Homo sapiens: one gene and its partners. The protein of the gene in region 5 purifies or fractionates together with the protein of the main gene of each other region. This does not show direct contact. Each region holds a gene or a part of one and is shown on either strand. Other genes may lie near its edges. The genes, in order: SDR16C5, SULT2B1, ITIH4, CP, P2RX6, KLK9 and GC.

Evidence for each region.
Region 1: the proteins of P2RX6 (region 5) and SDR16C5 purify together in Homo sapiens (affinity purification with mass spectrometry; one large-scale study listed by BioGRID and IntAct). This does not show direct contact.
Region 2: the proteins of P2RX6 (region 5) and SULT2B1 purify together in Homo sapiens (affinity purification with mass spectrometry; one large-scale study listed by BioGRID and IntAct). This does not show direct contact.
Region 3: the proteins of P2RX6 (region 5) and ITIH4 purify together in Homo sapiens (affinity purification with mass spectrometry; one large-scale study listed by BioGRID and IntAct). This does not show direct contact.
Region 4: the proteins of P2RX6 (region 5) and CP purify together in Homo sapiens (affinity purification with mass spectrometry; one large-scale study listed by BioGRID and IntAct). This does not show direct contact.
Region 6: the proteins of P2RX6 (region 5) and KLK9 purify together in Homo sapiens (affinity purification with mass spectrometry; one large-scale study listed by BioGRID and IntAct). This does not show direct contact.
Region 7: the proteins of P2RX6 (region 5) and GC purify together in Homo sapiens (affinity purification with mass spectrometry; one large-scale study listed by BioGRID and IntAct). This does not show direct contact.

Annotation. Positions count from the first base shown.
Region 1 is NC_000008.11:56,310,176-56,313,675, forward strand, and holds part of SDR16C5 (epidermal retinol dehydrogenase 2), read right to left. Parts: intron 2,114-3,500; coding exon 1,982-2,113; intron 1-1,981. UniProt on the Homo sapiens protein: Oxidoreductase with strong preference for NAD. Active in both the oxidative and reductive directions. Oxidizes all-trans-retinol in all-trans-retinaldehyde.
Region 2 is NC_000019.10:48,558,672-48,562,171, forward strand, and holds part of SULT2B1 (sulfotransferase 2B1), read left to right. Parts: intron 1-3,500. UniProt on the Homo sapiens protein: Sulfotransferase that utilizes 3'-phospho-5'-adenylyl sulfate (PAPS) as sulfonate donor to catalyze the sulfate conjugation. Responsible for the sulfation of cholesterol.
Region 3 is NC_000003.12:52,817,173-52,820,672, forward strand, and holds part of ITIH4 (inter-alpha-trypsin inhibitor heavy chain H4 isoform 1 precursor), read right to left. Parts: coding exon 3,459-3,500; intron 3,146-3,458; coding exon 3,119-3,145; intron 2,819-3,118; coding exon 2,768-2,818; intron 2,621-2,767; coding exon 2,582-2,620; intron 2,347-2,581; coding exon 2,221-2,346; intron 1,365-2,220; coding exon 1,290-1,364; intron 1,112-1,289; coding exon 1,085-1,111; intron 997-1,084; coding exon 880-996; intron 1-879. UniProt on the Homo sapiens protein: Type II acute-phase protein (APP) involved in inflammatory responses to trauma. May also play a role in liver development or regeneration.
Region 4 is NC_000003.12:149,208,330-149,211,829, reverse strand, and holds part of CP (ceruloplasmin precursor), read left to right. Parts: intron 1-1,450; coding exon 1,451-1,663; intron 1,664-2,445; coding exon 2,446-2,619; intron 2,620-3,500. UniProt on the Homo sapiens protein: Multifunctional blue, copper-binding (6-7 atoms per molecule) glycoprotein. It has ferroxidase activity oxidizing Fe(2+) to Fe(3+) without releasing radical oxygen species. It is involved in iron transport across the cell membrane.
Region 5 is NC_000022.11:21,025,165-21,028,508, reverse strand, and holds the end of P2RX6 (P2X purinoceptor 6), read right to left. Parts: intron 2,705-3,344; coding exon 2,611-2,704; coding exon of another isoform or gene 2,601-2,610; intron 2,499-2,600; coding exon 2,433-2,498; coding exon of another isoform or gene 2,258-2,432; coding exon 2,180-2,257; intron 2,090-2,179; coding exon 1,892-2,089; coding exon of another isoform or gene 1,783-1,891; 3' UTR 501-1,782; downstream 1-500. UniProt on the Homo sapiens protein: May act as a modulatory subunit rather than a functional channel. Unlike other P2XRs members, P2RX6 does not seem to form functional homotrimers.
Region 6 is NC_000019.10:51,004,301-51,006,592, reverse strand, and holds part of KLK9 (kallikrein-9 precursor), read left to right. Parts: coding exon 1-135; intron 136-2,292.
Region 7 is NC_000004.12:71,777,580-71,781,079, forward strand, and holds part of GC (vitamin D-binding protein isoform 1 precursor), read right to left. Parts: intron 1-3,500. UniProt on the Homo sapiens protein: Involved in vitamin D transport and storage, scavenging of extracellular G-actin, enhancement of the chemotactic activity of C5 alpha for neutrophils in inflammation and macrophage activation.

The DNA of each region.
Region 1 (3,500 bases), on a different chromosome or scaffold from region 5:
GGAGGAGGAAGGAGGAGGAGGAAGGAGGAGGAGGAGGAAGGAGGAGGAGGAGGAAGGAGGAGGAGGAGGAAGGAGGAGGAGGAGGAAGGAGGAGGAGGAGGAAGGAGGAGGAGGAGGAAGGAGGAGGAGGAGGAAGGAGGAGGAGGAAGGAGGAGGAGGAGGAAGGAGGAAGAGGAAGAAGAAGAAAAGAAGAAAAGAGAGAGACAGACACCATGAAGGCACCTGGGGAAAAACAGAGAGGTAGGAAAAGAACACAAAGCCAGGCCAAGCGCAGTGGCTCACACCTGTAATCCAAGCACTTTGGGAGGCTGAGGCGGGCGGATCACAAGGTCAAGAGATGGAGACCAGCCTGGCCAACATGGCAAAACCCTGTCTCTACTAAAAGTACAAAAATTAGCTGGGTGTGGTGGCGTGCGCCCATAGTCCCAGATACCTGGGAGGCTGAGGTAGGAGAATTGCTTGAACCCGGGAGGTGGAGGTTGCAGTGAGCCGAGATCGCGCCACTGCACTCCAGCCTGGCGGCAAAGTGATACTCTATCTCAAAAAAAAAAAAAAGAAAAAGAACACAAAGCCATGGGAGTGGAGACTTCCAGGGACCATGGTCTTTATCTTCATTCTGACTATATATGAGTATAAGCAAGCACCAAGGAGAGGGACATTTGGGACAAGATAAATCATTTGCAGTAGTTCTTGTAGGAACATGGTAGCCACTAAATTCTGAATCTTTCCATTTTTCTCCTGAAAACTTTACAAAACACCAAGAATAGCACCAGCACCATTACATTTTTGGTGGAAATAGGGGACAGAAAATCTACAAATTCCAAATTACATTTGAAGGCTGCTAAAGAAGACTTGGGTGGAAAGGTGTGAGGAGAATGGAGGAGGAGCTCAGAAATCTCCAGCAAAGACTCCCAAGAGAGAGCCTTGCCCAGGAATGACGAGCTACGAGCAGGGCTGGAACCAAACAGGTCAAAAGTCCTGTGATCCCAGCACTGTGGGAGGCCAAGGCAGGCGGAACACTTGAGGCCAGGAGTTCAAGACCAGCTTGGCCAATGTGGTGAAACCCTGTCTCTACTAAAAACACAAAAAATTAGTTGGGTGTGGTGGCGCGCACCTGTAATCCCAGCTACTCAGGTGGCTGAGGCACGAGAATCGCTTGAATCCGGGAGGTTGGAGGTTGCAGTGAGCTGAGATCACACCACTGAACTCCAGCCTGGGAGACAGAATGAGACTCTGTCTCAAAAAATTAAAATAAAATGATAAAGTAAAATAAAAATACAACTTTTAATAAAAGCTGGGAGAGGCAGCAAGAGGGTGCATGCATAGTGTGGGGAGGCCTGAGATGGCTGGTCTCAGCAAAGGCCAGAAACATGCAACTTCTGGAATTGAGTGGGTGGCTTTAGAAGTCAGGACTGTGCTTTTAGCGCTGGTAGCAGGTGGTAACCTGGGTTACCAGTGGAACCTCTAATTTCTCTGGTTGGGTACTAACTAAGGTGACTATAGGTTTTGGTTTGCCCATAACAGACCTGATTAACACTTGCTCATTAATAATGCTGAATTTCACTTCCAAAAGTGTCCCAGCTTAGGCAAATTACAAAGCTACCCTGGTCCTGTCTAAGTGCAGTTGCTCGCTATGTAGCCTGGAGCAAATCTTTTAAGTTCTATGATCCCTTATCTCACCGAGCTGTTTTAAGGAAAATATGTGAGCCACCTGGAGTATTTCCTAACATTTGCAGCTAATCAATACATGGTAGCAGGACCATGAGGACAGTTCTGTCCTTGTAGAATTCCCTAAGCAGAGGTCCTGGGGGCTGTAGATTAAGTGGCATCAGAAAAGGACAACTGTGTAGAACAGGACAAGTCCAAAACTGAGAAGTCTCTGCTTTACTTAGAGGCTAATAATATTGTAAAAGAGCAAGAGGAAAATACTTCCAAATGCCAGAATAATTTTACATTTATGATGAGAAGAAACAATTATTACCCATAAATGTGCTTTGAAATTCACATCAAATGACTTTTCCATAAGCTCATCTGGACAGTCAAGGAACTTTTTGCCTGTTACGATTCCGGCATTGTTGATTAGGATGGAAACATCGCCGACTTCTTTTTTAACCTGAATTGAATAAGAGCAACACCACCAATGTAGTAATTCCTTACATGGGCTAGGTTTTATTTTCCCAGAGTTTTATGTTTTTTTTATCCTGGTTAATTCATACTGAGTTTATGCACTCTAAAAATACAGCTTGGGGCCAGGCGCAGTGGCTCACACCTGTAATCCCAGCACTCTGGCAGGCCGAGGCAGGGGGGTGACTTGAGGACAGGAGTTTGAGACCAGCCTGGCCAACATGGCAAAATCCTGTCTCTATTAAAATTACAAAAATTAGCCAGGCATGGTGATGCGTGCCTCTAGCCCCAGCTACTCGGGAGGCTGAGGCAGGAGAATTGCTTAAACCAGGGAGGTGGAGGTTGTAGTGAGCCAAGATCACACCACTGCACTCCAGCCTGGGTGACAGAGTGAGACTGCATCTAAAAAAATAAATAAAGAAATAAATACAGGTTGGTTTATTTCCATTGCTGAGTCTACAATGCACCACACACCAAGTTTTTTTTTTTTTTTTTGAGATGGAGTCTTGCTCTGTCGACCAGGCTGGAGTGCAGTGGCACGATCTTGGCTCACTGCAAGCTCCGCCTCCTGGGTTCCCACCATTCTCCCGCCTCAGCCTCCCAAGTAGCTAGGACTACAGGTGCCCACCACCACACCCGGCTAATTTTTTGTATTTTTAGTAGAGACAGGTTTTCACCGTGTTAGCCAGGATGGTCTCGATCTCCTGACCTCATGATCCACCCGTCTTGGCCTCCCAAAGTGTTGGGATTACAGGCATGAGCCACTGCGCCTGACCTCCAGAGATCAAGTTTTGATGTGCTTTTCCCATTTTTCTCTTCTTAAAATGAGTCCATGTTCAAAATGCTACTTTCTGTTTACAGTTAGAGCTGTTCTTCTACTCAGTGGTTAGTAACTTTGTTCTGTGCTCTGTATGTGGCATTTCATTTTAATCAATATGATGGGACATAAGAATAGCTTCATTATAGCCAAATGTGACATAGATCAAGACCTCACACACGGAGAAGGGGCTGGATTAGGGAATAAATAGAGGAAAAGAGAAAGTACAGTCATAAATCACTTAACAATGGAGATACATTCTGAGAAGTGCATTGTTAGGTGACTTGGTTGCTATGTGAAGATCACAGAGTGTACTTAATAAACCTAGATGTGTGGCTACTACACATCTTAGGCCATATGGTAGAGCCTATTGCTCCTAGGCTACCCACCTGTACAGTGTGTTACTATACTGAACACTGTAGGCAACTGTTAACACATTGGTTAAGTATTTGTGTATCTAATCATAGAACATTGGGACAGTAAAAATACTGTAATAATCTGTCCCATAATGTGGGACCACCATTTTGTATATGGTCCATCACTGACCAAAATGTCATTA
Region 2 (3,500 bases), on a different chromosome or scaffold from region 5:
TTCTTTTCTTTTTTTTTTTTTTTTTTTTTTGAGACAGAGTTTCACTCTGGTTGCCCAGGCTGGAGTGCAGTGGCACCATCTCGGCTGACTGCAACAGCCGCCTCCGGGGTTCAAGCGATTCTCCTGCCTCAGCCTCCTGAGTAGCTGGGACTACAGGCGTGCGCCACCACGCCTGGCTAAATTTTTGTATTTTTAGTTGAGACAGGGTTTCACCATATAGGTCAGGCTTGTCTCAAACTCCTGACCTCGGATGATCCACCCGCCTCGTCCTCCCAAAGTGCTGGGATTACAGGTGTGAGCCACCGCGACTGGCCTGAAGCTGCTTTTTCTGAGACGGGCTGATCAAGGGGTTTCAAACAATTAAGAAATAATAAGGCATTGCCTCCCCGCTGGGTGAGATTTGGGCAGGCAGACTAGGGAGAGGGGCTTCGGGGCCAGCACTAGCGGATGCGGGGACTTGGGGAGAAGTGGAAAAAGATGCTCACGGTTCCCTCCTTCTCCACCCAGCCCCTGACGAGGGACTCAGCCTTGAAGAGTGAGGGACAGGATGCGTTTTCCTTTCCACTCGCTCTTTGGGGTGGGGGGAGGCAGTTGTGCCTGGTGGGCCTGTGTACGGACTGGCAGAGGAAAGGTTGGAAGTGGTGATGTTCAGAGTTCAGGACCCATTTGGTTTTGTTTTTTGTTTTGTTTTGTTTTGTTTTGTTTTGTTTTGTTTTGGAGACAGAGTCTTGCTCTGTCGCCCAGGCTGGAGAGCAGTGGCGTGATTTTAGCTCACTGCAACCTCCGCCTCCTGGGTTCAAGCGATTCTCCTGCCTCAGCTTCCCAAGTAGCTGGGATTACAGGCATGTGCCACCATGCCTAGCTAATTTTTGTATTTTTGATAAAGACAGGGTTTCGCCATGCTGGCCAGCTGAGTTCAGGACCCATTTGGAAAGAACTAAGCAGCCCAGTTTGCCACCCAGAGGGTCTGGAGGAGGAACTGTGGGACCCAGTGGGTCACCCATGACATGGAATAAATGCCAGGCTGAGAAGGGAGACCCTCGCCTTGCCCGGAGGCCTGGAGTGGAGGCCCTAAGAGAGGTGTGGCCAGTTACTTACGTGGGGACCAGAGCCCCAAGGATCTGGGAAAGTGGGGACCGTGACACCGCAGGCAAGAAAGCCTGCAGGGGCCAGGTGCCACAGCTCACGCCTGTAATCCCAACACTTTGGGAGGGCAAGGCAGGAGGATTGCTTGAGGCCAGGAGTTCAAGACCAGCCTGGGCAACATAGCAAACCCTCATCTCTCTTTAAAAAAAAAAAAAAAAAATTAAAAAGAAAAGAAGAATGCCCACAGGAAGGCAGTCCTGGGTTCGAATGCCGCCCCTATGGCTCAGGAGCTGGGACCCTCCTGGTAGAAAGGACTGCCCTCAGGGTTGAGCGTCTGTGAAACGGGCAATGACCGGGGAAGGGCCTGACCTGGGCTCGCAGCTGACTCAGCATTTGTGCTGTTTCTCTCTTTCCTCCTTCCCCAGTTCTGAGACCGCTGCTGAGCCAGAAACTCGAATGCTAGCAAGGGAGGGGATGGGTGAGGAATGATAATAATGATGAGCTTCCTGAGCATCTGCCCTGAGCCAGGCCCTGTGCTGAAGGCTGTGTGGGGATGAGCTCACTGAGTCTTCACAACAGCCCTGTGTGGTCCCAGTGTTACAATGCCCATTTTACAGATGGGAAAACTGAGGCCCCACTCATAACCCTCATGCCAGAGAAAGGAATCCAACAGGGGCTTGGAACTGCAGTCAGAGGCTGCCCCTCAGTGGCCATTTCTTCTCGGGGGGACTTGTCACCCTTATGGTTTCCATGACCCTGGCCACCCTCCATAGATATATACCGTGAGCCCATAGGAAAACATTTTCTCGTAGCCACCTTTTTAAAAAAACAAAAGAAACAAGTGAAATTAATTTTAATCACATATCTAATCTATCTGAAATATCATTTCCACATATAGTCAATTTCAAAAACTGTCAATGAGGCTGGGCGTGGTGGCTCATGCCTATAATCCCAGCACTTTGGGAAGCCGAGACGTGTGGATCCCTTGAGGTCAGGAGTTCGAGACCAGCCTGGCCAACATGGTGAAACCCCATCTCTAGTAAATATACAGAAATTAGGACAGCCGTGGTGGCTCACATCTGTAATCCCAGCACTTTGGGAGGCCGAGGTGGGCCTATCATTTGAACCCGGGAGGCAGAGGCTGCAGTGAGCTAAGATCCTGCCATTGCACTCCAGCCTGGGCAACAAGAGCAAAACTCCGTCTCAAAAATAAAAAAAATAAAAATTAGCCAGGTGTGGTGGTGGGCGCCCGTAATCCCAGCTACTCGGGAGGCTGAGGCAGGAGGATTGTTTGAACCCAGGAGACGGAGGTTGCTGTGGGGCTGAGATCGCACCACTGCACTCCAGCCTGGGAGACAGAGCAAGATCTTGTCTCAAAAAAATAAATTCGGGCCCGGTGTGGTGGCTCATGCCTGTAATCCCAGCATTTTGGGAGGCCGAGACAGGCGGATCACCTGAGGTGGGGAGTTCCAGACCAGCCTGACCAACATGGAGAAACCCCGTCCTACTAAAAATAGAAGAGTAGCTGGTCGTGGTGGCACATGCCTGTAATCCCAGCTACTCTGCGAGGCTGAGGCAGGAGACTCGCTTGAACCCGGGAGGCAGAGGTTGCAGTGAGCCGAGATCGTGCCATTGCACTCCAGCCTGGGCAACAAGAGTGAAACACTGTCTCAAAATAAATAAATAAATAGATAGATAAAATAAATAAATTAATTAAGATAAAATAAATAAATAATAAAGGTATGCTGGAAGGGAGAGAGAGAGGAGGTGTTTGAGAGAAAGGAGGAGAGAAAAAAAGTGAAGAGCCCCAGGCGACAGGCGTCGTGCAGGGTGCGGTTCCACGGTGTAGTGGAGCATGCGACATTCAGGGAACAAGCCAAACTGGACAGTGAGAACGGAACACTGGCAGCCCAGCTACAGTGGGACTCGGATGGGCAGGGCCTGCGGTGAGACTGTCAGGCTTCAAGGGACAGAGCCAGGGACCTCGAACCTAACGTGTGTTCCCCATCAGGCAGATGTGGGTGAGATGCTCTACATCCCAGAGCCCCACTCCCCTCTTCTCCAAAATGGGCCTTGGCTGGGTGCAGTGGCTCATGCCTGTAATCACAGCACTTTGGGAGGCTGAGGCAGGTGGATCACCTGAGGTCGGGAGTTCAAGACCAGCCTGGTCAACATGGCAAAAACCCCATGTCTACTAAAAACACAATAATTAGCCGGGCTCATTGCTCACGCCTGCAATCCCAGAACTTTGGGAGGCCAAGGCAGGAGGATCACTTGAGATCAGGAGTTTTGAGATCAGCCTGACCAACATGGCGAAACCCTGTCTCTACTAAAAATACAAAAATTAGGTCAGGTGTGGTGGCTTATGCCTGTAATCCCAACACTTTGGGAGGCTGAGGCGGGCGGATCACCTG
Region 3 (3,500 bases), on a different chromosome or scaffold from region 5:
TCATCAGGAGGGGTGCCCCTTTCTCAGCACTCCTTCACACTGGGGGCTGGCTCCCACAATCTCTCCACTTGTCCCTTGGTGTCTAAGGCTTTGGAGGGGCCCCTAAATCCTCGGCGACGGCCACCCTCAGTTGAGGCCTTTGAGAATTAACTTGTCTCCAGTCAATAAGCCTTCAGAACGCCCCATGGAGCGCCTGGCCCTGAGCTAGATGCCGCGGCCAAGGGTAAGATGGAGAATTGGTGCTCCCTGCCCTCAGGAAAGACATTCCTAGCCTGAGTGAGGAAGTGGGTGACACATGCATCTGAGGAATGAGAAAGCCATGGATGTCCCTTGGCTTTGAGCGGGGCTGGGCGGTGCGGGGGTGAGCACTGCTGAGTGGAGTGTGTCCCCATGTCTGGTCCAGGATTGAAGGGGCAGGGCCCAGCCAGCACCCCTGTCTCTTCCTGCCATTCCCCTCATCCACACCTTCTAGGTCTCATCTTTTGGGGCTCTGTACTCTGCAGGCACTAACTCCTCCATCATCTGGAACATCCTCATGCTGGTCTCTGTGCACCCGCCATGGCCCTGCCATCCCTGTGTGACCCCAGGCAGCTCCCCTGACCCTTGCCCCACCCTGGCTCCTCCTCTAGGCTCACCTCCACATGGCTGCCATGCTTATCTGTGCCTTGGCCACCCACACCTGCACACAAGGTGCCCAGTGGAAGGTCCCCGGGGTGTCTGTGTGAGTGTGTGCCCATGCCAGCACTGGGAGGCAGGACCATGCTATGATCTGGGAGGGGCCTGTGTGGGGCCAGCCTGCACGCGCTGTGTGTGTCTCTGTAGGCAGGTGGTGGGTGTGTGCCAGTGGTGTCTGGGTCTCTCTGGGTGTGCCTCTCTCACCTTGCTCAGGGTCTGAGAGCAGGTTCACTGGCCCCTGGCGGTGTCTGGGGTCCACACAGAGCCGCTCCACACTCTGCCCAGGCAGTGGCAGGATGGCAGAGGGAGCCTGTATGGGGGCTGGGACAGCCGGGGCACGGCTCCTGGAGCAGGAAGGGCAGGCTGGGGGCAAGGATGTGGAAAGGGGCCAAGGGGGCTGGGAACTTACCTGGGGTTTGGGTTGTCATGGTTGTTTCTAAAAGAAGAAAAAGTCTGGGTTTAGGCAGCCCCTTCCTGAGGAGTGGGAGGTTGAGGGAGGGAGCAGTGACTAGGTGTGGCTGGGTTCCCTCACTACTTCAACATCGAGACATGTGACAGGTCACTCCCCTCCCAGGATCCCCCTGTTAGGACAGGGCCTCTGGCCTTGGGGGCACCTTCGATTTTCATATTCATGACACGAGACACAGCTGGATCAGGATTTGAGGTGGCTGGTGGTGCTGAAGCAGGCACTAGGGCAGGAACATCCGGAAACAGAAAGGGAGCAGGAAGGCAGTCAGGAGGCGGGCAACCAGCAGCGCTGCCACCAAGCTCCAGCCCCCCATCCTGCCACACATACACTCCACCTAGAATGGCCTTTGTCACAGGAGATTTTCAAACAGAAGAGCATGCTGTCAGGGATAGGTCCAGCCTGGCTGTGCAGCTGCATTCGAGTGCAGATTTGGGGATCAGAAAACAGTTCAAGGGACCTCTGTTGGCTTTCTGAACGGAGGAAGCCCTCCCTTCCTAGAAGGTTTCCTCATGAGTCAGCCTCTAGAGTATAGTGGATCCTACTCAGTGAAAGTAAAGGACAGGTGAAGTCCTGCCTTGGGGAGGGGAGGCCTGATGTCCATACACTGGGTAGTGGGGAGAGGGGCCTTCAGAGAGAGGAAGCTGGCAAGGACTGCTCCAAAGAGCGCTGTGATGTGCATGCTTGGCCAGTCCGTGCCCCTCTTAGGGCCTAGGGTCCCCTCTGAACAAGGAGTGTGGGAGAGGCTGCTCTGTCATGGCCTGTGGTCTGACAACCTAGGGGCAGCTAAAGGACCCGGGTGAGCTCGCATCTGAGGAGATGAGACGCTAAGGATGGGGCAGGGGGCAGCTGCAAAGAGCTGGGAAGGCGAGGACAGCCTCCTTAGGAAATGCACTCCCACCCCAGCCCCAGTAAATGATCCCAGGTTGAACTGACCCACAATTACTTCACATCGTGCCCTCAGCAGCCGTCCCTGGCCTGGCCCTGTGGTGCGTGCTTTACCCCACCCCCCTCTATGGGGCAGGCTCAAGGACCACCGTGGGAAACCGAGGCCCTCGCAGGGCCGGAAGGCAGCTTACAGATGGCCAGACGGCGGAAGGGGTGGTAAGCAGCATGGTCAGGAACATCAGGAGGTCCTGGGAGTCCAAGTTGCCTGGAGCTGAGAACCCCAGGTCTGAAATTCATCCGGGAGCCAGCAGCTCCAGCTTTGGAGAAATCGACAGATGCAGTCTTCTCTCAGGTGGGGTGTGGGTCTTCACAGCCAGGGCTTGAGATCCACCCAGGAGTGGGTGCGGAGAGGGCAGCTATGTCCCCTCTCCCCACACCCGGCCAACTTGGGGAGCCTCTCCCCCAACAGCTGGGAGATGAACAATAATGGACCTCCCTCAAGCTCCCCCCCAGGGATGTCATGCCTCCCCCTGGCAGAAACCCTCAAACTACCTTGTCTATTCCATCCTCTTCTTGGAGAAAAGGAAGCCTCTGTGTGGTCAAGTCCTGATCAGATACAACTGAACTGAGGCCCGAGGGCTGTCACCAGCCAGAGGAGCTGGGCAAGGCACTACCCTCCACAGCCAGGACTGAGCCCAATCTGTCAATCTCCCCTCCCCCCACCTCCTACTTTGTCACCTGGTTTTGGTATTTTTGCTCCCTGGAGATAATATTTGAAGAAAGTGGAACCTGGAAATCAGTGGGACCTGGGTTTGCATCTTGCACCCACCTTCCTGTGGCCCCACTTGGATGGGGACTGTATTCTTAGTGCTGGGGACAGGGCCTGAGGCACAGCCAATATTTGAATGCACAGGCGACTAAATGCACCAGCATGCTGGGTCAGATTACACTGCCTCCTGGCAGCAGGGATGGGCTGGAGAGGCCTGGGTGGACCTGGGCCCTGGCCAGCAACCTCACAGGGCTGGTGCCCTGGACCCTGTGTTAGCAGACCACCACCCAGCACAGCCTTTGAGGATGTTCGCTGCTTACCTGAGTGGACATTCCTGTTTCTACTTTCTGGATAAAACAAAGAGAGAGAGAGAGACAGACAGACAGAGACACAGACAGACACCGTCAGGGTGGTTTTCATCAATTTGAAGCGCTTGTGTTTAATCTTGCTACCCAATCCTGGACTATATCGTAGGTGCAATGAATTTGGGGAGACAGGAGACCCGGCTTCACTTTCCTCATCAGTGAATAGGCTGAATCTCCCAGGGGGAGTCTGTTGGGGGCACGGTTGGGGTCTTGGTCAGGATGCAGGGAAGATCGGGGAGAACGCTGGGTCCAAACTCTGCTACCTGGGAGGCTGAGATCTCAACCCCACACCCACCGCCTTCCATGGGCTTCTCAGCAACTTGAGACTGCTCTTGGT
Region 4 (3,500 bases), on a different chromosome or scaffold from region 5:
ACAAAGTGCATCAGAGCCTAGAAGAGGCAAAATCCAGAGGGAAGAGAAAGAAGGACTCAAGATGTGGATTGCCTTATCTTTGAAGTTCCTACATGTAAACATACTGTGCTGTTGTTACCTCCCATCCTAACTTTATATAAACTCTGCCCCAGCTAAGGTGGCATAAGTAGTCTCATGTCAGTCAAATGGTACATATGCCTGGATGACTGTAGTCACATATGAGACACAATTAACTGAAAAAGTCATTTGAATGTAGGACTTGGAAGCCTTGAAAATAGTACCTGAAAAACAAAGATAAGGTTTGGTGCCTGTGATCTCATTCTTAGTCCTTAACAATGATGGTAAAAAAGGTGGTATTTTGTAGTGATGAAAAGCAAGGGCTTTGAAATTAATAGACAAAGGTCTGAGCCCCAGCCTTGCCTTTCACTGTTTGAGTGACCTTGGACAAATTACTTAAGTTCTTTCAGCTTCAGTTTCCTCATCTATAAAATAGAGATAATAAGAATACATAGTAATACCTCAATAACTATCAGCTGCTATCATAAGCAAAAATGCTGAAGTCATGCTACAGTTCATTGAAATTATAATGATCGAATAGGGAAATTAATTTAAAATTAGATTTGATTCATTATTAGTTGTCTTATTAAAAGAGATATTGGTTTAGAAAGTGAATGTGTTGACTTTTTTTGTTTTTGTTGTTGTTTAGGGATAAATTACATTCATAGCATAAAAGGCTGACTGCCATCCTATTTCTTTTTAATGATTTCATGGCTTACTAGGGAATTACCATTCATTTTAAAGGTATGGTAATGGAACTGTGGTTTTGTTAGAAGAAAAAAAGGGTTCCTATCTTTTAGAGATACATACTCAAGTATTTATGAATGGAATATGATGTCTGAGACGTGCTTTAAAATAATTTGATGATACTGGGGATAAGAGTGTGTGGGGGTACAGATGAAACAAGGTTGGCCTTGAGTCGATCATTGTTAAAGCTGGTTTGATGGGTACACAGAGGTTCAGCATTTTCTTCTCTCAACCTTTGTGTGTGTTTGGAAATTTCCAAAATTGAGAGTAGAAATGTTTTTAATTTTATGGTTACTTCGTGGGCAAAAATCTGAGATCATATAAGAAGTTTTGAATTTAGAAGAGGGTAGCCTTTTTGCTCAGACTCCCATACCATGACCCGAGTTCTTTACATTGCAAACAAAAAGTCATTATGCTCTCTGAAAACCCAATCAAATATAAAAAAATAATAAAAATGTCTGTGAAGCTTCTACACACCCTAGCCATTAGCCTTTCATTTTCCTGTGTCCAAATAGGATAACACATCCCCAAGGATCACATAGTAGATGTTTAATAAATGTTTGCTGAATGAATTAATGGACTATCTATTCTCTCATTTAAGTTCAAACACATTCACTTTGCACCTTCATTGCATGTTGCTTCCTAGGGGCCATCTACCCTGATAACACCACAGATTTTCAAAGAGCAGATGACAAAGTATATCCAGGAGAGCAGTATACATACATGTTGCTTGCCACTGAAGAACAAAGTCCTGGGGAAGGAGATGGCAATTGTGTGACTAGGATTTACCATTCCCACATTGATGCTCCAAAAGATATTGCCTCAGGACTCATCGGACCTTTAATAATCTGTAAAAAAGGTACATCTTCTCCTTATTGCACATGCTATATGACCAAAAGACAGGGGCAGGGCAGTTTGTCTTTTAAAAAGAAATCAAGTCTTCTGTGCTGAGATTGAGCAGGTAAGGTAGAGAGGTGGTAAGTAGAAAAAAAGGAAGGGAAGAGCCAGGCAGGACTAGGAGAAGAAGGGATAAATAGAACAAGCATTCCTACGGGGAAAATGCCAATGAAGGTAATGTGAAAGAAATATATTCTCTCAGGGTTCAGTTTGCTGTATCTAACTTCCAACAGTGGTGCTGAAGAGACATATGACTTTACCAAATGTGACTACCAAAAGGGCACTCCACGGTGATAGATCTGTAGTTACTCATACTATATTGGTAAACATAATATCATAGTATTTATTTCTAACATCATGAAAAAGACAACGGAGCTCAAGAGCCTGAAATACAATTCTAACTTGAACAATCGTTACCTGTAAAGACTTGTCTCTGTTTGTGGCTATATGCACCAGAAAATAGACGCACAACTTTGAATTCCAATCTTCCCATTTGCCAAAAAGCATTTAATAGTTATGTGGTCAGTGGACATCCAGACACAGGAGTGTCTTCCAAGCACCAGATACTGATCATAAAAATTCCCTGAGTGTTTCTGTCTGTAAAACAGGAGTGACTGGTCCAGACTTGTGATTTATTCGAAAAAATAAATACTAACATTTTTAAAAACTATAAATCACCTGAAAACATAAATCAAAATACATGCTAAAAGTTTAGTCTTGCTAAAATAGTAACTTTAACTCCAGATTCTCTAGATAAAGAAAAAGAAAAACATATTGACCGAGAATTTGTGGTGATGTTTTCTGTGGTGGATGAAAATTTCAGCTGGTACCTAGAAGACAACATTAAAACCTACTGCTCAGAACCAGAGAAAGTTGACAAAGACAACGAAGACTTCCAGGAGAGTAACAGAATGTATTGTAAGATTACAGCAGACATGTTAACTTTACTTTTTTTTCCCTTGATCCATTAATTCTGCTAAGCTTATTCCCTCACATAAATAAGTACTGTGTGTCTAGTCTGTGGTCCTTATAACAAAGCATATTGGATGTGCAATTTGATATTCAGCTAAGTAAGTCAGAATAAAAACTCTAAGCCAGGTAAAGCCAGATACACCAAACTTGTTCCCCAACTGGTAAGGATAAAGCATCAATTATGGTTTAATGCATATGTATGTGACATTAATATATTTATTTATCCACTAGACTCATTCTAAAAATTATTTGAGGCAGCTCCAAATTATTAAACTAAATGCTTAAAACCATATTATATTTTAAAGCATCTAACTATATTTAAGAAAATAGTTCAAACCACGAGTTCTGAAAGGTATTCGTTTTACATACTATGTTGCCCTCACTGGGCCCCTTAGTCTGCATCATTCGTTTCTACATTTCAGTTCACTTTACTTTTCTAGAAATGCTTTTTTTACAGTTTAGACTTTTTCTTAATTCTCAGACACAAAATAATGAGCTTAGTAAGATTATCTATTTCTCATAATTTGCATGAGAAACAGAGTCCCTTAACAACAACTAGACCAATAAGTAGATATTTTCGTTTATTTGTTTGTGTTTAACTTCTTCAAAATAACCTGTACTCAGAAACCGAGAGCACAAAAATAACGATACTACCAAAGTAGAAAAATAAACTAGTTAACAAAGTACAGATTTTGTTTCCAACTTTTACTTATATCTGGGTGGAAGGTCCTCTTTCCATACTTTAATCCTGTCTCTGTTGTGTACTAACAAAAATAGTTGTTATAAAAAGATACTCAAAATTCTAGCCTGAGCAGGTTTGATTTGGT
Region 5 (3,344 bases):
GGCATGGGGTCAGGCTCCCCACGTCTGCTAGGTGGCAGATCCAGGGAGCAGAGCTTGGGCCCCAAGGAGGCTGCCTAGAAAGGGCAGCAGGGTTCTGAGCATGGCATGCACCTGAGGCCTGCCTGGCACAGGCACCCCCACGGGGACACATGCATCCCTGCAGGCACTACCCTGGGGTGCATGCCTGTGCGCAGACTGAGGCGACAGCTGTTTCTGAGCTCGGGCCCAGGCTGCAGCTCTCTTGCTGTCTTTGCCCACTCTTCAAGGGCTTTGAGGTGAAAAGAGTGTGGCCCTCATGCTCCTACATGGGTGCACAAGTGCCCAGGCCTGTTCCAGTTACCTTCTAGCCCACCTGGTAGCTGCAGGGCCTCAGTCTTCAGGGGTAGGGTCCCCAAGTCCACCCTGCACCACCCCACTGGTCTCTTCATGGCTGTGCCATGTCTACCATAGATGCCCCCCAACTTTCCAGTCATGCCTGTAAGGACTACACAGGAAGAGGGTGGCTTTGCTGGCTTTACTCCGTGACTTTGTCCAGCCATGACATCAGCTTCCTCTGGGCCCCAAGGAGAATCAGGTGCACGTGCCCCTCCTTGGATACCCAGGCCTCAGGGGCCCTGCTCTCCCACCTTCGCCCTTCAGAGCCCACCTCCCCATGGACATGGCTCTGGAGATTGAGAGGCAGCAGGGACCCCAGGCATTTTACTGAGGCTCCAGGTGGCAGGTGATTCTAGATGTCAGCCCAGTCTCAGCCCCACCCCTGGCCCTCCACAGCTTGCCCTGATCACCAGGTACCCACAGTGGAAAGCAGCCCCTTGCCTCCCTGGGGTGGACACTTAGAATTCCCTGCCCCGCCCTGGGACCAAGAGGAGAATTCCAGCTGCAAAACCTGGCCAGCCTGAGGGAGATCTCGGTGGTGTTGTTTGGAACCATTCCTTCCAGCCACTCCATCCAGCCTGGGATCAGAGCCAGGGCCTCCCTCGAGCAGCTGCCCAGACAGCTTCCTAGGTATGACTTGGACTGAAGTGAATTTCAGATGTACAGCCTCCCACAGCCTCCCACCCCCAGGGCTCTCAGGAAGCCTGGAGGAAAGATTCCAAGGGGTTGGGCTGGGGGGTTACCGAGGAGGGATATAGAAGGTCCTGAAGAACCCAATGATCACCAACTTAGCCCTGCCGCCCTCTGCTCTCTCTCCCAGACCTCCATGGCAAAAGGGCTACCACTGGAAAGCAGCCGGTCCTCATAAACTAAGCAGGTGTGGGCCCAAGACACATGCTCCGCCCTTGCCTGGGGGATAGGGAGGTGGATTATCTGCCTACTCCACCCCATTCCCTAGATTAGGACTCTCCTGGGGCATCACAGCACCAGAGAAGCTGAAACAATCCCCCTCCCCCATCACTCCTCTTTCTACCTTGCCTTTTTGGCTCCAGCTGCACAGCCCCATGTAGGACCGATGGGAGGGTGGGGTCTCTACCTATGATGGGGGTGCAGATGGGGGAGGAGGGCCAGGACCCAGGCAGCAGGAGGGTCTGTGCTGACAGCTGGTAAGCATACCTCTGCTAGGAACACTGGGGACAGAGCACTGGGAGAGAGACCTCCAGGCCCAGACGCAGCAGGAGCCCCTGCCACATGCAGTCGGAGCCCTGCAATACAGGTGCCTGCTGGGCTCTCCCAGTCTCCACGGGTCAGGTTCTGTCGCCGTCTCAAAACACAGCCGACTTCTATGGCTCCCTGAGGCAGCACCCTACCAAGGTGGGAGTCAGGGGAGGGACTGTCTGCTGGGGTTCAAGGGTGGAATTCTACCCCCAATCCTCCATGCTGGGGCCTCATCCTTGAGATCCCCAGGCAGGGCCCCGCCCTTCCCAGCCCCCAACTCTCAACCAGCAGGGAACGGCTACAGGCTCCCGGAATGGGTTGGCAAGTGGGTGTCAGAACTTGGACAGGGCCATCCTGGTGTCTGTGTCTGACTCCCAGCAGCAGTGGCCGTGGGTGCAGGTGCTGAGCTCCGTCTGAGGCACTCGGCCAGTCGGGCTTGGGATGCAAGGGCCAGCTCCCTCCACACAGAGTTGGCGGTTGCTTTCGGGGCCTTGGCCTGCAGATGAGGACAGCAGGTCAGGGATCCAGCCAACATCTTCCTAAGTGTGGCAGAACCCAGGGTCCAAGCAGAGCGACCTCAGCTCACCTCCTCATACTTTGTCCTCCAGTAGAAATGGGCTTCTCTATCCACATACAGCAGTAGCAGGTCACAGAAAAAGGTGACCTGGGAGAGGCAGGGCCAACCCATGTTCCAGCCCCCGAGCCTGCTCTCCTGCCACCTCCCCAGCCTGCACCCCGAGACTCAATGTGCAGGCACCGGAGGCTCCAGCATGCATTGGACACACCCTGGTCAGCAGCACTCACTGCAGCCTGCAGGTGCCCACAGTGCTCGCACTCACCACGCCCAGCCAAGCTGCCCCGGTGCCCAGTGTGACGGCCGTGGGGATGAGCCCGAACTTCCCTGCCTGAGAGAGATCTGAGCTGAACCTCTCAGCCCACGACTGTCAGCCTCATGCCTCCTCCAGCCCTGTCTGCCTGCCCCATCCCATCCCCGGCCTGACCCCTACCTGTGCCTACCTGCCCGGTGACGAGGATGTCGAAGCGGATTCCATAGAGCTTGAGCAGGGTGCGGGCCTCCACACCCGGTTGCTCCCACCAGTGAGTGGCTGTCCTGTGGGCAGGAAAGAAGGCTCTGGTGACCTGCTTTGCCCACCCCCAGGTGGGGCTGGCCCTGCCAGACCTCTGTCCAACTTGTCAATTGACTCTATAAACCCCCAGCCCAAGCCTGAGTCCTGGGTCTCAGCCCTATGTAATTGGTGAGAAAACAGAAAAAGCAAACGAAGACCTGTCCCTCAGAAGTTCCCTGCCTGCTGAGAGGACGGGGGACAGAGGAGTCCCTAAACAGACCCAGCAGCGGGGGATGTGAAGGGGCAGGCTCAGGGCTGAGGGATTCCAGAGATGGGAACTCACTCTTCCCTGGGAACTGGGGTAGACTTCCTGGAGGGGACATGAGGCTGGGCCTGAAGGAACATGCACACAGGTGGTTTGCCAGCACAGAGGTCAGGGGAACAGGATGTGGGTGGGAGCCAGCCCCACGTGGTTTCGAAGGGCTGGGGAGGTTGGGGAAGCCAGATCAGACGGGGTGCAGTGAGCTATGTTGAGGGGCATCATCCCCAGGCCTGGTGGTCGTGTGTGCCTGCCTGCATGACGAGGTGACGCTCGGTGGCAGAAGGATCCAATAGATCTGCTTAGAAGACTCAAAGACATGATAATAAATGCAATTTATGAAACTTGAGGCCAGGCACAGTGGC
Region 6 (2,292 bases), on a different chromosome or scaffold from region 5:
ACATCATGCTGATCCGCCTGCCCAGGCAGGCACGTCTGAGTCCTGCTGTGCAGCCCCTCAACCTCAGCCAGACCTGTGTCTCCCCAGGCATGCAGTGTCTCATCTCAGGCTGGGGGGCCGTGTCCAGCCCCAAGGGTATGACCTGGCCCAGAACTCTCTCTGAAACTTGCTCCCTCACCCCTCTGTCTCTGCCTTTTCATCTCTGTCTTCTCCTTTTCTCTCTCCTCTCTCTCTCTGTCAGTCTATCTATCTGCCAATCGATATATTTAACCAAATATAAGATGCTAGCATTTTTAAGATGTGCCATTATTTCATGAACTGCGAAGAAGTGGAAGAAGGAGGAGGAGGAGAAGAAAAAAAGGAGGAGGAGGAAAGATCCCATTAGATCCCATTGATTATATAACACCATTTTCTGGAAGACACATTCTAATTTCAGAGTGTTTGTTTGTTTGTTTGTTTGTTTGTTTTTGAGACAGGGTCTCGCTTTGTTGCTCAGGCTGGAGTGCAGCGGTGTGATCACGGCTCATTGCAGCTTTGAACTCCTGGGCTCAAGTGATCCTCTCGCCTCAACCTCCCAAGTAGCTGGGATTACAGATATGCACCACCACATCCCACACCGGGGTCATTTTTTTATTATTTATTATTATTATTATTATTATCTTTTTTTTTGTATTTTTAGTAGAGACAGAGGTTTCACCATATTGGCCAGGCTGGTCTCAAATTCCTGACCTGGTGATCTGCCCGCCTTGGACTCCCAAAGTGCTGGGAAAACAGGCATGAGCCACTGCACCCAGCCAAAATTCTAGTCTTTTTTAAATCTAGTCATATCTTAGATTTAATTCAGATAATGTTAGAATCCTGGAGTTTTTTGATCCAGGGGAATCTGGAATGTTAGAATCTTGGATTCATAAAACTCTAAACGTTGAGCCTCTAGATTCTAGAATCATGGATACTAGTGTGTCAGAATCTGAGAATTCTAGAATCTTAGATTCTGGGCATTCTAATAGTATCCTGGAATCCACCTGATGCAGGAATCCTCTCTCCATTGCCTCTGAAAAGTGACCATCCATACTGTTCCAATTTTCTTCCCTCCATGAATAAAGCACTGATTCTGGTAAAAGATGCTGGGTGGGAATTTCCCATCATGCATTGCTCCATGATGGGACCTCCTTTAACTTAAGCCTTATGCTAAAAATTTTTATTATTTTTAGCAAAGATGAGGTCTTGCTATGTTGTCCAGGCTAGTCTCAAACTCCTGGCCTCCCAAAGTGCTGAGATTACAAGTGTGAGCCACTGTACCTGGCCCAGAGATGTTTAAATGTGAAATGCGTTCATCTTAGAATGGGAATAAGACCATGTCTCTCAGAGTCACGGATCACTGACCCATTAGCCAAATTGGGTCAGTGGATTGGAAAAACAGTCTGAATTTGTTGCTGCCAATATCTAAAACTTGGAAAGTTTTATACAAAAGCCAGGTTTCTGGATTCACCTGAAAAAGTTTGAAGAACTCACATTCCCAAAATAGCAAGCATTGGGCTGAGTCAATGGAGGCTGCCCCCTTCAGCCAAGATAAGTTCTCTGATTCACTCCAATGGACCCAAATGGCTCCTGTCTCCCTGCACAGCCCCCGTCCCCGACTTCTGTTTACCAATTCTGTTTATCATATCCCTTGATGCATCGGAGCCTGCACCCATGTCTTATATAGATGCACATGTGTATTATATATCCATATCCACATCTATACTGACTACACTGTATCTGGTATCTCTGTCTATGTCTCTGTCTCCATCAGTGACCATCTTCCTGCAAATCTCTTTCCTTTTATCTCACTGCCTTCATTCCACCCCTTGAGGTCTGGGTCTTTTTCTATTTCTTTTTTTTTTTTTTTTAAGAGACTGAGTCTTGCTCTTGTTGCCCAGGCTGGAGTGCAGTGGTGTGATCTCGGCTCACTGCAACCTCCACCTCCTGGGTTTTAAGTGATCCTCCTGCCTCAGCCTCCCGAGTAGCTGGGACTACAGGTGTGCAACAGCATGCCCAGCTGATTTTTTGTATTTTCAGTAGAGACGGAGTTTCACCATGTTGGCCAGGATGGTCTCAATCTCTTGACCTTGTGATCCGCCCGCCTCAGCCTCCCAAAGTGCTAGGGAGTTATATATGCATCTCCTCTTATCTCTTGGCTCTCTGCATGCATCTTTCTGTTTCTCTTCCTTCCTTTCTTTTTTTTTTTTTTTTTTTTTTTTTTTTTTTTTTTTTTGAGACGGAGTCTTGCTCTGTCTCCCAGGCTGGAGTGCA
Region 7 (3,500 bases), on a different chromosome or scaffold from region 5:
TTTGTTATTTATATTTTTTAAAATCTAGTATGCAATTGTCAAATAAAAGTATTTTCATTTTAAAACCAATTATTACCTAACATTTGCAGCAGAACTGATAATATCAAAATAACAAATTTACTTTCGTGTAGTAAAATTTGAAGACTGAAATGGTTATTCTAAGACTGTGCTCTTGCTATTGTATTTTTTAATAGATAAAAAAATCACAGTTATTTCCATATAAAAATATTTTCACTCATAAATGGGAGTCGAACAGTGAGAACACATGGACACAGGGAGGGGAACATCACACACTGGGGCCTGTCGGGGGTTGAGGGCTAGGGGAGGAATAGCATTAGGAGAAACACCTACTGTAGATGGTGGGTTGATGGGTGCAGCAAACCACCATGGAACATGTATACCTATGTAACAAACCTGCAGGTTCTGCACATGTATTCCAGAACTTAAAGTTTATATATATATAAAAAAAAACAAAATAAAACCCACATAGGAATTCAGCTGCATCAGCAGATATGAATGTGAAAGACATGTATAACTACATAACACTCCTTGTATATTCCAATAAATCTTTCTAAATCAGCTTTCAAAAAAAAGTTATGTAAGTTTCACTTCTCTAAGATGAAAAACACAATTTGTTAAATGTAAACATATTTAAACAATTCATATGTGATTTCATTTATAGAGAATAAAAATGACTGGTAACTAATTATTTTGCCTATTTTAAATGTAAAGATACAATTATTTGTTAATATTATTTTCTTTAGGTAGTGTTAAACCTCAAGTTACTATTTTACCATGACACCCAGGTTAGCAAACCCAAATGCTCATAGGATCTAGGAACCACACAACTTACATTTGATCCAAGGGAAGAAAGCATTAAATGCTCAGTGGTGAAAACTGAGGGTTTAGTCCAAAAGGAGGAGTGACAATTCAGCTCCAGTTCATCATTGCCATGTGAAAATTTGGCCCTTATTACCACACATTCCTGTGTTTCCAGAGAAGCTAGAAATCTAGATTTTTTTGTGGAATCTCCAGGTTTTAAAATGTTGACAAGTGAAATGAGACTTTAAAGACAGACTTAAAGAAACTTTGTTGGCCCAAACCATGAGGGCCAAAGAAAACATCCATATGAGGATGTATTTTATCATGATTTAAGATAGAGGCTTTGGATACAGACCACCTGGATTTGAATTCCTGCTACCCTAGGTGATAGTGAGACCGCTGGCAAGTTGCTTATCCTCTCTGTTCTTCCTCAGTTTTCTCATTTGTAAAATGAAGATTGTATCCTCAGGAAACAGAATATTGCTGTCAGTTATTATTATTATTATTATTATTATTATTATTGGCTAAATCCAGTTCATGATCATTTTTATACATATGAGTGTATATATTTATGTACATACCTATTTATACACACACACAAAAACACACACAGACACATCAGCTATCTCCTGGGAGCATGGCATCATATGAAAGAAAACTCTAAAGCCACCAATCTTTAAGGAACCTGAGTCTGATGGTAGACATACATATACAAAAACCCAATTTTGTAATATTACACAATAATTTTTTGAACACCTACTAAATGCCAAGTAATGTTCTATTACTGGGAATTACAGGAAATAACAAAAGTTCTTAATTTCACAAGGCTTGCATTCTATATTTGTTACAATAAGCAAATGAACAACCAGTGATAAGGTAAGGTACTAGGTGCTAAGAAGAAAAAATAAATCCAAATAAGGGGATAGAAGATAATGGACTGGTAGGTGTTATTTGTGGTAGGTTGGCTAGGGAAGCCCCCTCTATAAATGGACTTGGAGTAGATGCCTGAAGAAGGTGAGGAAGGGAGCTATGAGAATATCTGGACAATCAATGTTCTAGGAATAGAGAAGAACTAATGCAAAGCCCTGGGGTGCAAAGGACTTAGAGTGTGAGATAATGTGGAGGCCAGTGTGGTCAGATCAGAATGAATGAGAAAAATAGGAGAGAGAGAGAAGAAGCAATGGGTAGAATGAAGAAGTTAGGTGACCAAAAATACTGGGGAAGGGCATCATCAATTCCTTTTAGAGGTTTCTTCATTTTCTCCTGTCCTAAATAGATTAAGCTGGTGGTGTTTTACAGAGTGTGCACACTTCTCCTTATATTACATATTGGTGACTGCATATGTGGCATTGCACCTGATATCAGTAAGATGAAACATTGCTATTGATTTTCAGGGAGGTTAACATTGCTCTCAGTGATGAGAGCTGTATGACTTCAGCCCTTGCGTAGGGCTGTTTTGACAGGGAAGGAAGAGAAGGAAAAGTGTAGCTCACCCACCAACCCAAAGGGAACTTTCTTCTTGCAGTTTTATATCATGTTTAATAAAAAAAAATGCTGTGAATGAAATGCTTAAAGCAAAAAGGAAAATGTTCATAATAAAAACCTCTTTTTGCCAACAGCTCTTATCAACTGCAGTGGTTTATTTCCTGTTGGCATGATTACCTTAATAATTTTGTAGCTGTGTCACGACCCTCTGATCTTTGACAAACCTGACAAAAACAAGAAATGGAGAAAGGATTCCCTATTTAATAAATGGTGCTGGGAAAACTGGCTAGCCATATGTAGAAAGCTGAAACTGGATCTCTTCCTTACACCTTATACAAAAATTAATTCAAGATGGATTAAAGGCTTAAATGTTAGACCTAAAACCATAAAAACCCTAGAAGAAAACCTAGGCAATACCATTCAGGACATAGGTGTGGACAAGGACTTCATGTCTAAAACACCAAAAGCAAAGGCAACAAAAGCCAAAATTGACAAATGGGATCTAATTAAACTAAAAAGCTTCTGCACAGCAAAAGAAACTACCATCAGAGTGAACAGCAACCTACAGAATGGGAGAAACTTTTTGCAATGTACCCATCTGACAAAGGGCTAATATCCAGCATCTACAAAGAACTTAAACAAATTTATAAGAAAAAAACAAACAACCCCATCAAAAAGTGGGCAAAGGATATGAACAGACACTTCTCAAAAGAAGACATTTATGCAGCCAAAAAACACATGAAAAAAATGCTCATCATCACTGGTCATCAGAGGAATGCAAATCAAAACCACAATGAGATACCATCTCACACCAGTTAGAATGGCAATCATTAAAAAGTCAGGAAACAACAGGTGCTGGAGAGGATGTGGAGACACAGGAACACTTCTACACTGTTGGTGGGACTGTAAACTAGTTCAACCATTGCGGAAGACAGTGTGACTATTCCTCAAGGATCTAGAACTGGAAATACCATTTGACTCAGCCATCTTATTACTGGGTATATACCCAAAGGATTTTAAATCATGCTGCTATAAAGACACATGCACATGTATGTTTATTGTGGCACTATTCACAATAGCAAAGACTTGGAACCAACCCAAATGTCCATCAATGATAGACCGGATTTAAAAAATGTGGCACATATAGACCATGGAATACTATGCAGCCATAAAAAAGGATGAGTTCATGTCTT